2 separate regions of the Homo sapiens genome follow, and region 2 is linked to region 1. The links come from fine-mapping of genetic effects on gene expression. Tissue or cell type: whole blood. Region 1 holds a variant in brackets; the other region holds the start of a gene. All regions are shown on one strand. Distances are from middle to middle. Region 1 has its middle 47 kb from the start of MAGI2. Region 2 holds the start of MAGI2-AS3 (MAGI2 antisense RNA 3).

Region 1 (5,384 bases):
TATCTCCTTCCCAGGTAAAAGCGGCATAGAAAGACCTGTCTCCCTTCCCTCAATCAGAGTATCTCTGGAGGGTCAATCCATCTTCACATCTCCCCAGAAGATCAACTGAGGCTTCTGTTGAGACTGGATTGAGTTCTTGTTCTCTTTCTGGAAAATCTTGCTTCTTTCCCTTCCGCTCCAGAGGTGTTGATCCCCCAAAACCTAAATAAACCACCTGTATACTAATCTCCATCACAGATTCTGATTCCCTAAGAATCTAACCTGGCACAGGTAGTACCAGGAGTAACTCAAGAAAGCCATACTTGGATGGGAATTTGAAGCTGCTTTGCTCCCCACCACATGGCAATCTGTAAGTGGAGTACAGATAATCCCTTTCACAACTGGGCAGCACAGTTGTTGAAACAATCGTGGAGTACTGGGGTGGCATACCAAAGGATGTGAATGCCTTAGCTGGCACAGTGTAAAGCTGCTGGAGAAATACGGAGAGAAACTGCAATTATAAGAATAGTGGAATTGAATGGTTTTTACTAAGCTCACTCTGAGTAAGATAATATATAGGCAAGTGTGATTAATTAGCAATTAAAAAACTAACTGTGAAAGCCTTAGTGCCTCCTAGTGGTATACAAGAAGGCTCTCATCTTCCAGAAGTGAACACAGGACAAAGTCAAGATTTAATTATCAGATTAGCCTAGCTGCAAAGGATGAACTCCCAATTATGGCAAATATATGCTATTTCAAGGTTCAGACCATTTTGGGGAAACAATGGGACCTTGAGGCATCATGGGTGTATCTAGGCTGATACTCCTGAAAATTCTCATAATGACAAGTATAAATGGTCACCAGTCTCAGTCTTTTCCTAAAAGGACCTGCAGTCATTTACTTTGGTAACTGCATGTTAGGAAAAGGAAAATACTCAAACATTTTAGAAAGTACTGGAACAATAGTCAAGACATGTTAAAAGATGATATGAGCAGATATTTCACAGAGTGGGATAAACAGATGGCAAACAAGCACAGGAAAAGATGCACAATATCATTAGTCATTATGGAAATACAAATTAAAATCAAAATTAAATATCACTATACATCAATCAGAATGGCTAAAATAAAAAAATAGTGACAACACCATATGCTGACAACTATGTAGAGAGACTGGGATATAAAGTTTTACAGCCAGTCTGGAAAACAGTATGGCAGTTTCTTAAAGAACTGAACATGCAACTACCATATGATTTACCAATTGAATTCTTGGGCATTTATCACAGAGAAATTAAAACTCATGTTGACACAAAAACCTTTATATGAATGCTCATTGCACCTTTATTTGTAATAGGCAAAATCTGGAAACAACCCAGATATCCTCCAAAATAATTAAGCACGCTGTGGTATAATCAGATCATAGAATACTACCCAGCAATAAAAAGAAAGACTATCAATACATGCAACAACCTGGATAAATCTCCAGAGAATTACAAGGAGTGAAAAAAGCCAATTCCAAACATATAATATCTGTTTCCATTTACACATTATTACTTAAATGTCATAATTACAGAAAAGGAAAACAAGAGTTAAGGAGGAGATGGAGGTGGAAGTAAAGTGGATGTGAGTTTAAAAGGGCAACATGAGGGATCCTTGTGGTGATGGAAACATACTTGATCTTGAGTGAATCTATGTCAATATCCTCATTTTTCTATTTTACCATAATTTTGCAATAGCTCACCAATGAGGGAAACTGTACAAAAGGTATACAGGATCTATGTCTATTATTTATTACAATTTCATGTTAATTTACAATTACCTCAAAATAGAAAGTTAATTTAAAAAAGGTTTCAGGCTGTGATGTAAGCCTCTCTGCAGATGTCATGATATTAGAGGTTATCACTGGTGGGAAAATACATGATGTGGAGTTCATGACTTTTCCCAATCAGAGAACTATAACTCAGATCATAGGGGTCCTGTAGCAAGGTCATGGGATATGAAGCATTGAATTATAGGCCTTTTGGGAACACCCCTTGGTGTACAGCTAGGACCTGGTAGAGATAGCATGCCTAATCATGGAAGACTATGTGACTGTGAAGCCAACTTTGATATATTTATACAGTGCAACAATACTCAGCAATAAATACAGAATGAACTACCTACACAAAAGAATATGAATGAATCTCAAAACTTTTTGCTGAATGAAAGAAGACTGACACAAAATAATACATACTGCAAAATTCCACTTAAGTGAATTTCTAGTACTGAAAAAATAATTTTTAGTGTTATAAATTAGATTAAGTGTTGTTTGGGGTTGAAGTAAAAACAGACTAATTCTAAGGAGGCAGAGGGAGTCTATGGGGTGGTAGGAATGTGCCGTATCCTGCCTTGGGTAGTAGTTACATGGATTTTTACATTTGTCCAGGCTCATTAAACTGGACAGGTAACGTGTGAGCATTCTTTTGCGTGCAATAAAATTGTTTAATAAAAGGACTCAAAACCAATTTGAATGAGCCCCCACTGGCAAAAGACAGGAGAATTGGGGCATTGTCTTAGTTTTTGTGTTGCTACAAAGGAAAACCTGAACATGGGTAATTCATAAGGAAAAAATATTTGGCTCATGATTCTACAGGCTGTACAAGAAACATGGTGACAGCATCTGATTATGGTGAGAAATTCAGGCTGCTTCCACTCAGGGCAGAAAGGGAGGGCCGGGCGCGGTGGCTCACGCCTGTAATCCCAGCACTTTGGGAGGCCGAGGCGGGTGGATCATGAGGTCAGGAGATCGAGACCATCCTGGCTAACAAGGTGAAACCCCGTCTCTACCAAAAATACAAAAAATTAGCCGGGCGCGGTGGCGGGCGCCTGTAGTCCCAGCTACTGGGGAGGCTGAGGCAGGAGAATGGCGTGAACCCGGGAAGCGGAGCTTGCAGTGAGCCGAGATTGCGCCACTGCAGTCCGCAGTCCGGCCTGGGCGACAGAGCGAGACTCCGTCTCCAAAAAAAAAAAAAA[G/AG]AAAAAAAAAAAGAAAGGGAAGGGAGCTGGTGTGTGCAGAGATCACATGATGAGAGAGCAAGCAAGAGAAAGGAGGGAGATGTCAGGCTCTTTTTAATTACCAGCTCTCGTGGGAACCTACAAATCAAGAATGCACTCATTATCATGAGGATGACACTAAGCCGTTCATGAGGGATCCATCATTTGAGCCAAACACCTCCCCTTAGGCCCCACATCCAACACTAGGAATCAAATTTTAACATGAGGTTTGGAGGGAGGCTGAGGCTGGAGAATCACTAGAACCTGGGAGGGGGAGGTTGCAGTAAGCCGAGATCACGCCATTGCACTCCAGCCTGGGTAACAAGAGCGAAACTCCATCTCAAAAAAAAATTATATATATATGTATATGTATATATGTAAATATGTATATGTATGTATATTTATATATACATGTATATATGTGTATATATGTATATGTATGTATATTTAAAGTATGGCAATCCCCCAAGCTCTGGAGTTTAACCCCTCTGCACCTCTGGCTCATTTGCCCTATAGCTTCAGGGAAGGTACTCACAGCAGGTGAAAATTTAGGCAGTGTGCTTGCCATAAGATGCTGTCAGGTCCAATGAGTTTGATTTCTCATGGAACTGTCCGTTGCATCAATGGTTAAAATTAGAGCTTGGTTAAGCTATTATGATGCCCCAGAATCAGAAGCATCTTCTACATTATCAATGAATGTTAATATCAGTATTCCACATATAGAGTATACTTCATAAAAATGTGATTATATCTATAAATCTTGAATGAATTTCTGCATATAATCATCAGTCTCAGGAAAGAAGAAAGGAAGGAAGAGAAGAAAGAAGGAAGGAAAGAAAGAAGGAAGGAAGAAAAATTAGAAGGGAGGGAGGAGGAAAAAAGCTTTTATCAGGTATGTGAAGAAATTTGAATGTTGACTCAATATTTGATGATTTTTAGAAATTATTAATAAAGCTGGAGGCCTTACACTACCAGCCTTCGAAATATACTACACAGTTGTAGTAAGCGAAACAGTATAGTATTGGCATAAAAACAGACACATAGACCAATGTAACCGAATGGAGGACACAAATATAAACCCATGCACTTACAGCCAACTCATTTTGACAAAGGTGCCAATAACACTCATTGGGGAGAGGACAGTCTCTCTAAAAAATGGTGTTGTGAAAATTGGATATTTATATGCAGAAAAATGACACTAGACCTCCACCTCTCACCCTATACAAAAAATCAACTCAAAATTAATCAAAGATGTAAATGTAAGACCTGAAACAATAAAACTACTAGAAGAAAATGTATGGAAAATGCTTTAGCACATTGACATGGGAAAAGATTTTATGAATGACTTCTAAAGCACATGTAACAAAAGTGAAAAATAAAAACCCAACAACAAATAGGGTTATATTAAACTAAAAAGTTTCTGCACAGGAAACAATCAACAGAGTGAAAAGACAGCCTACAGAATAAGAGAACATATGTGCAAATTACTCATCTGACTTGGATCTAATATCCAGCATATATAAGGAACTCAAACATCTTATAAGCAAACAAACAAACAAACAAACAAACAAACAAAAATCAAACTAAAATATGGGCAATTATCTGAACAGAAATTTCTCAAAAAAAAAGACATACAAATGGCCAACAAATATATGAAAAAATGCCCCAAATCACTAGTCAGTAGATAAATGCAAATCAAAACTATGATGAGATATCATTGTATCTCATGGCTATTCTCAAAAAGACAAAAAAATAAATGCTGGTGAGAATACGGAGAAAAGGGAACTCTTATCCACTGTTGGTGGAAATGTAAAGTAGTATAGCCACTATGGAGAACAACAATATGGAATTTCCCCAATAGACTACAAATAGAACTACCATATGATCCAGTAGTCCCACTACTGGGAATTTATCCAAGTGAAAGGAAATCAGTATTTCAGGGAGACATCTGTACCTCTGCGTTTATTGCAGCACTCTTCACAATAGCCAAGATATGGAATCAACCTAGACGTCCAACAACAGATGAATAGATAAAGAAAATGTGGTGTATATATACACAATGCAATACTATTCATCCATAAAAGAGAATGAAATCCTGTCATTCACGCCAACATAGATGGAAATGGAAGACATTATGTTAAGTTAAATAAGCCAGGAACAAAAAGTTAAACACTGGATGTTCTCATTCATATATGGAAGCTAAAAAAAGTTGTTCTCATAGAAACAAAAAGTAGAACAGTGGATACTAGAGGCTGAGAAGTGTAGGAGGGAAGGAGGGATAGCAAGCAATTTGTTAAAGAATACAAAATTATAGCTAGATAGAAAGATACGTTCTAATGCTCTGTACCACTGTAGAATGACTATAGTTAACAATAA
Region 2 (5,384 bases), 47 kb after region 1:
CTAGAGCCGAACCACTTGGGTCTGAACGTTAGCTTCACTATTAACAAGATTTGTAGCCTTGCAAAAGTTCATCCTTGTATACCTCAGTTTCCTTACCTGTAAAAGGAGATAACAGTACCTATTTTATCAAAATGTCAGGAGAAATTAAGTATTATGTGTAAAGCCTATAAAACAACATCTTGCATGTAGTTAGAACCTAATAAATATTAGTATATTCCATGAATGGTAGCTTGTCATTTGGTTTTACAATATGTATATATTCGGTTCTCATGATGAGTTTCCATTTAGAACTATGCCTCATAATGCTAACACTCAACTTCTCTGGGTGAGATTAGGCTTTGCTATCAAGTCTTGCCTACTCCTGGGCATTGCCTGCAGCTCTGGCTTCAGATCCTGGCACTGCCCCTGGCTCACTGAATAAGCTTCAACTAGTGCAGCCAACTTACGGAGGATCTGTTTTCTCAAGTGAAAAAAAGACACAAGGTTAAACAAATCATCTTTTTTTAAGATCTCTTCCAGTTCTGACTACATTTGATCCCCCTCATCCCCAAGTAGTAAGTTATACCTAAGAGGGAAAGAGGAGGGAATTATCATTTCGAACTCCTACTCACCTGTGCCAGGAGAGCACTGCTGTGACTGATTTCCCTGATTTCATCCTCACCACAGTCCTAACAGATTAGTATTGTTAAAGTCCATTTAACAACTAAGAAAGCTGAGGCTCAGGAAGGTCAAGCAGTTTACTCAAGATCATATTCTCAGTAAGCCGCAGAGTCTGGATTGAAACCTGGTCTTTCTGTTTGGGTCGACTCAACATTTTTAACCGTATTGTTTGCCTCCTACATCGCCTTCATCTCAGACATTAAGAATCCTACCTATTCAATGCTTTTCATCCTCCGCTTTAAAGAGATAAGTGGGTGCACAACTTTTTTTTTGCCTGAAACATATCATCTAAAAGTTAAGCAAATGAAATTCATTTACCAGTTACAGGAATCTTTTTCTTAAATCACTGTTAATGTCTCACAGGAAATTAGCTCTTCAGTGGAAATCAGCAGCCTCCCTGCATCCTTTTGCCCCTGTCCTCCCCTCTCTTGGATGCAAACCTGGCGAAAAGAAGGGAACACTGCTTGGGGTCAGCGAGCTGAGTTCCAGCTCCGAATGTACCATTTTCACCCTCGGGAGTCTTCTCCCCTTTCTCTGTGAGCAAAGGAGTGTTGGGCCAGACCGTCTTAAGGATTCTTCCCCAGGTACAAGCCGGACTCTGGCGGCTTTCCTGGGCAAGGGAGTGTCTCCGCCTTGTCTCTGCCGCAGGTCCCTGGTTAAATTGTCAATTTCTCTGCGGAGGCTGCTCACTGCATCCGCTCCCTCCACCCCTAGCCCTGTAGACCCCTTCTCTTTCCCCTACTTGGGAAAAGTGAAGCCCCTTATCCTTGGATAGCCTTTCACCAGACAACCGCAGCCGTCCGCTAAATTCCCCTACTGGCGGGACGCGCGGGCGGGGGCCTGCCCCGGGGAATGCGAGGCTGCTTCCCTTCTGCGTAATCAGGGTACGCAGCCTCCAGTTCTCTAACTTTCTCCTTCTCTAAGAGGGAATTTCGAGAACTTTAAGACAAATAAGTGACTATATAGATGAAGACATGAAACCTCTCTACACAGTGAACTCCCCCACGCTACAAGGCTCCCAGGGATCCCAGGCCTTCTCCCGCAATGCCCCGCCGGGTCCCCCGCCCCAACTCCTTCTCACGGCAGGATCCCGCGCCAGGACGCTCGCAGAGCCCGAGATGTGGCACCAGGCGCGCCACAAGTCCAGGTCCCGCTATTTCTGCTCCATCGGAGCCCAGGTCGGAGGGAGTCAGCGCGTCCTCCTCGCACAGGAGCCTGGCGCGCGGCTCGGTCGCACAGAGGCTGAAGAAAGGTCCGCACTGGGCTCGAGGCCCTTCCTGCCGGCCTCCCCACGCCGGGCCTAGGCTCCCCTCCTTCCCGGCTCCCGCCTCCTCCCGTAGGCTGCCAGGCGGACCCAGCCTGCCTCTCTCTCTGCCTTCACTACCGGGTCAAGCTGCGGAGGGAGGGAGGGAGGCAGCGGCGAAGCCCTCCGTGGCTCCCCACCCGGCGCGCGCGCCCCTCCTCCCCTGCCTCCTCCCGTCTGCCAGTACAGTAGAACTAGTACACACACACACACACACACACACGCACACGCACCCTGCCACTGCAGCTGCCATGGATATCAGCTAACAACACACACCCAGGCGCGCGCGCGCGTTCCCACTCGCACCACGCAGGAGTGGCCCCCGGCATCCCTACCCTCCTTCCCCACCCCCACCACACCCGCTCACCAGCTCGGCTACTGCTCGCTCCGGCTGCCGCCGCCGCCGCCGCCGACGCCACCACCACTGCTTCCTCTGCTGCGGGGCCACAGCCTTGAGTGTCATTCAAGGGACAGCACAACCTCATCCAAGCTCTCCTACCTCTGCCCAGCCGTCCCTCTCATCCTCCCCATTCCTCGTCCACACTCCATCCAAAGAAGAGGGAAAGCACCGAATAGAGGGGGGCGAAGGCAAAGTCTGCTGTTCTTCCCCCTGGGCCCCCTTGCTCCTCCATCCTCATTCTCTCACCACCAGCCCCCCTAACCCCAAGGAGCCCAGGAACTGAGGCGACTCGCCCCACTGCCATGTCCAAAAGCTTGAAAAAGAAAAGCCACTGGACTAGCAAAGTCCATGAGAGTGTCATTGGCAGGAACCCGGAGGGCCAGCTGGGCTTTGAACTGAAGGGGGGCGCCGAGAATGGACAGTTCCCCTACCTGGGGGAGGTGAAGCCCGGCAAGGTGGCCTATGAGAGCGGCAGCAAATTGGTGTCGGAGGAGCTGCTGCTGGAGGTGAACGAGACCCCCGTGGCGGGGCTCACCATCAGGGACGTGCTGGCCGTGATCAAACACTGCAAGGACCCCCTCCGGCTCAAGTGTGTCAAGCAAGGTGAGAGCAGCGGCTTGCTCAGTGTTTTGCCGGGCGGTGGGACCGCTCGGGGCGCAGGGCAATGAAAGGGTGGCCGCGCATGTTGAAGGGGGTGTGTTGCGCGATGATGGGGTGGGGGCCAGAGAGCACCCGCAGTGCAAGTGAGTTTCGCCGGGGATTCGACTTGGGGGCTAAAGGGAGGGGAGGGGCAGGTTGTGGTGTGGCGTGCAACTTTGTTTGCTCAGTTAGACCCTCCCCTTTGGAAGGTGCTCGGCCTGGTCTGACCTCCTCAGAGCTGCTGGGGCAAATTGAATGTGCGTCAGTGGCATCACCCGAAGCGGATGAAGAGCTTTTGGGGAAGGGAGGAAGGAAGAAAAGAAAGAAAGAATGGGAGGAAGGGAGGGAAAGAAGGAAGGAGCAACTTCAGGGTGCAGCGGCATCACCAGCGGGTCTGGGAAGAGAAGGTGGTGGGGTGAGCGGAGAACTGCGTCCAGCGTTTCTGGGGCTGGGCTGGGGGCGCCTGGGTCCCCAGCTGTCCCTTAGGGATCCGTGAGCCACCGCTGGCGAAGAAAAGAAGGGACAAATTGCTTTGGGCGCTTTGACGGGTCTTCTGTAACTTTTCCCCTTCTTCACTCCGTGTCCCCCTCCCCCGCTCACGGTCGTGTCATGTGGGCATCGCGCGTCACGTGCGTACTGACTAACCCCTGCGCTCACCCCTAGCCAGCCCGGGGGAGGAGGCTCCGGAAGAAGGCGCGGTGCTAGGAGCGCAGTCTAGTGCTGGGCGGGGGTCGGAGGAGATGAATGGTTGTCGGAGGAGATGAATGGTTGTCCGCATGGACTTTACTCAGGGGTTGCCCTCATTGAGTGGAAGTCCTCTGTGGTTGGGCTCTCCTCTGGCTCCGATTTGGGGGGCGTGTTTTGGGGGAGGAGCTGGATGAAACCCTGGCCGGTTCCAGCCCAGGCTCCCTCAGCTCCAACCTGACTTAAATGAACCTCAATTGGAGGCTGTGATGTGGATTTGGGGAGATTGGAATCATCCAGAACTCCCTGTCTTTGCTCGAAAGAAAATTATGGTGCAGAAGGAGAGAAGAGTGAGATAAAAGTTTGAATAGAGGACAACTTTAAGTAGAATAAAGTAGTAGCTTTTTTCTTTTCTGTTTTCTTTTTTAGCTCACTGCACAATTCGTGTGCGGTATGTATGGATATTTGCGTCACAGGCATATTAGCATAAGGGTTTGTTGTTGTCGTCGATGTACACTGTTTGTCCTGACTCAAAGGTGGAATTGAGCATGTCATTACCTGCATTTTGCCGCTTAATCATGATCAACTACTAAGAAATGCTTTTACGGAGATGTACCGCACTGTTAAATTATTCTCTAAAAAACTTGTTTTAAAATAAACAAGATAAAAAGAAGTACTGGGCAAGGTTTCTTAAATGTAAATTGCCATACAAGAAAATGTTTTCCTTGGGTATTCTTGAGTATTAAGAGGTAATAAATTGAGATAGGTTATTATAAGTCAACATAGCTCCATACTATTTAACACTGAAGGGATATGAGTTTGGTAGGAAGGAAAATAGAGTAACTTGATATTTTTGAAGATAAGATACCTAAGGTTCAAATACAGAGATTCATGTTAACATGTTCGATGTCAAAATACCACCTTATAGGAATAGACATAAATGGAAAGATCTTTGGGTACGAAAAGTCTACTACACAACTAATGACCATGGTTTTGTTGGCCAAATGCTTGATATTTGTCATGGAACGTGGCTGCAAAAGTTAAGCGTTGTTAAATTGGACTTAATAGAGTCCCACAAACGGATGCCCTATTATAGTTTGCAATGATCATCACATCTTAAATGTTGTGTTCAATTCTGAGCACTCCTTGTTGAGGCGGACGTTGGCAAACTGTCACGCTAGCAAAGAGTAAGTTCAAAAGAGAAATAAAGGAAGATTATTGTGTATTATAGATGTATTCTATGAAATGCCGTGGAAAGACTTAACGTGGAGAAGTGAAAGAATGAAAGCTATCATTAAATAGCGAAAAGCTATCAGGTAAGAAAAGGAATTCTGACTATCCTGTGATAGCCCACAGGACAAAATGGTGATAAATCTATGAGAAATTTGAAAGGATGAAGCAGCTTTACTTTCATTAAATCATGAGCTTTCTAACAGAGTTTTCCAAAAATTTGTGAGCACCCTGTTGGCTGAAGTTCCCATCATTGTGGGTATCCATGAAGAGGCTGAAATGACCATATGCCAGGGATTCCTATATAAGATGAGGACCTGGATTAGATATTATTTGAATCTTGCCATAATTTGATCTAATGTGGTTGGAGATCACTCTTGTATTGAATTTTATGTGGAAGATTATTGCTTTTAGAACTCAGAATATATGCTTCTAAAGTGATATATTGAGGGGAAAGTCTCTTTTCAT

The links.
Region 2: MAGI2-AS3 starts here. The variant in region 1 is fine-mapped to the expression of MAGI2-AS3 in whole blood (INTERVAL, PIP above 0.99).

The regions. Positions count from the first base shown.
Region 1 is chr7:79,497,577-79,502,960 of GRCh38, reverse strand. No RefSeq gene overlaps it. Among named protein-coding and RNA genes, the nearest start is that of MAGI2, 47 kb to the right of the region's middle. The variant G/AG (reference allele first, on the strand shown) is at 2,991.
Region 2 is chr7:79,450,602-79,455,985 of GRCh38, reverse strand. It overlaps MAGI2-AS3 (MAGI2 antisense RNA 3), which reads right to left and starts at 3,029. Exons shown (of 4, transcript NR_038346.1): 1 at 2,795-3,029; 2 at 2,331-2,399. MAGI2 (membrane associated guanylate kinase, WW and PDZ domain containing 2) reads left to right here and starts at 2,319. Exons shown (of 22, transcript NM_012301.4): 1 at 2,319-2,966. The coding sequence starts at 2,666. RefSeq lists an enhancer at 3,579-3,873.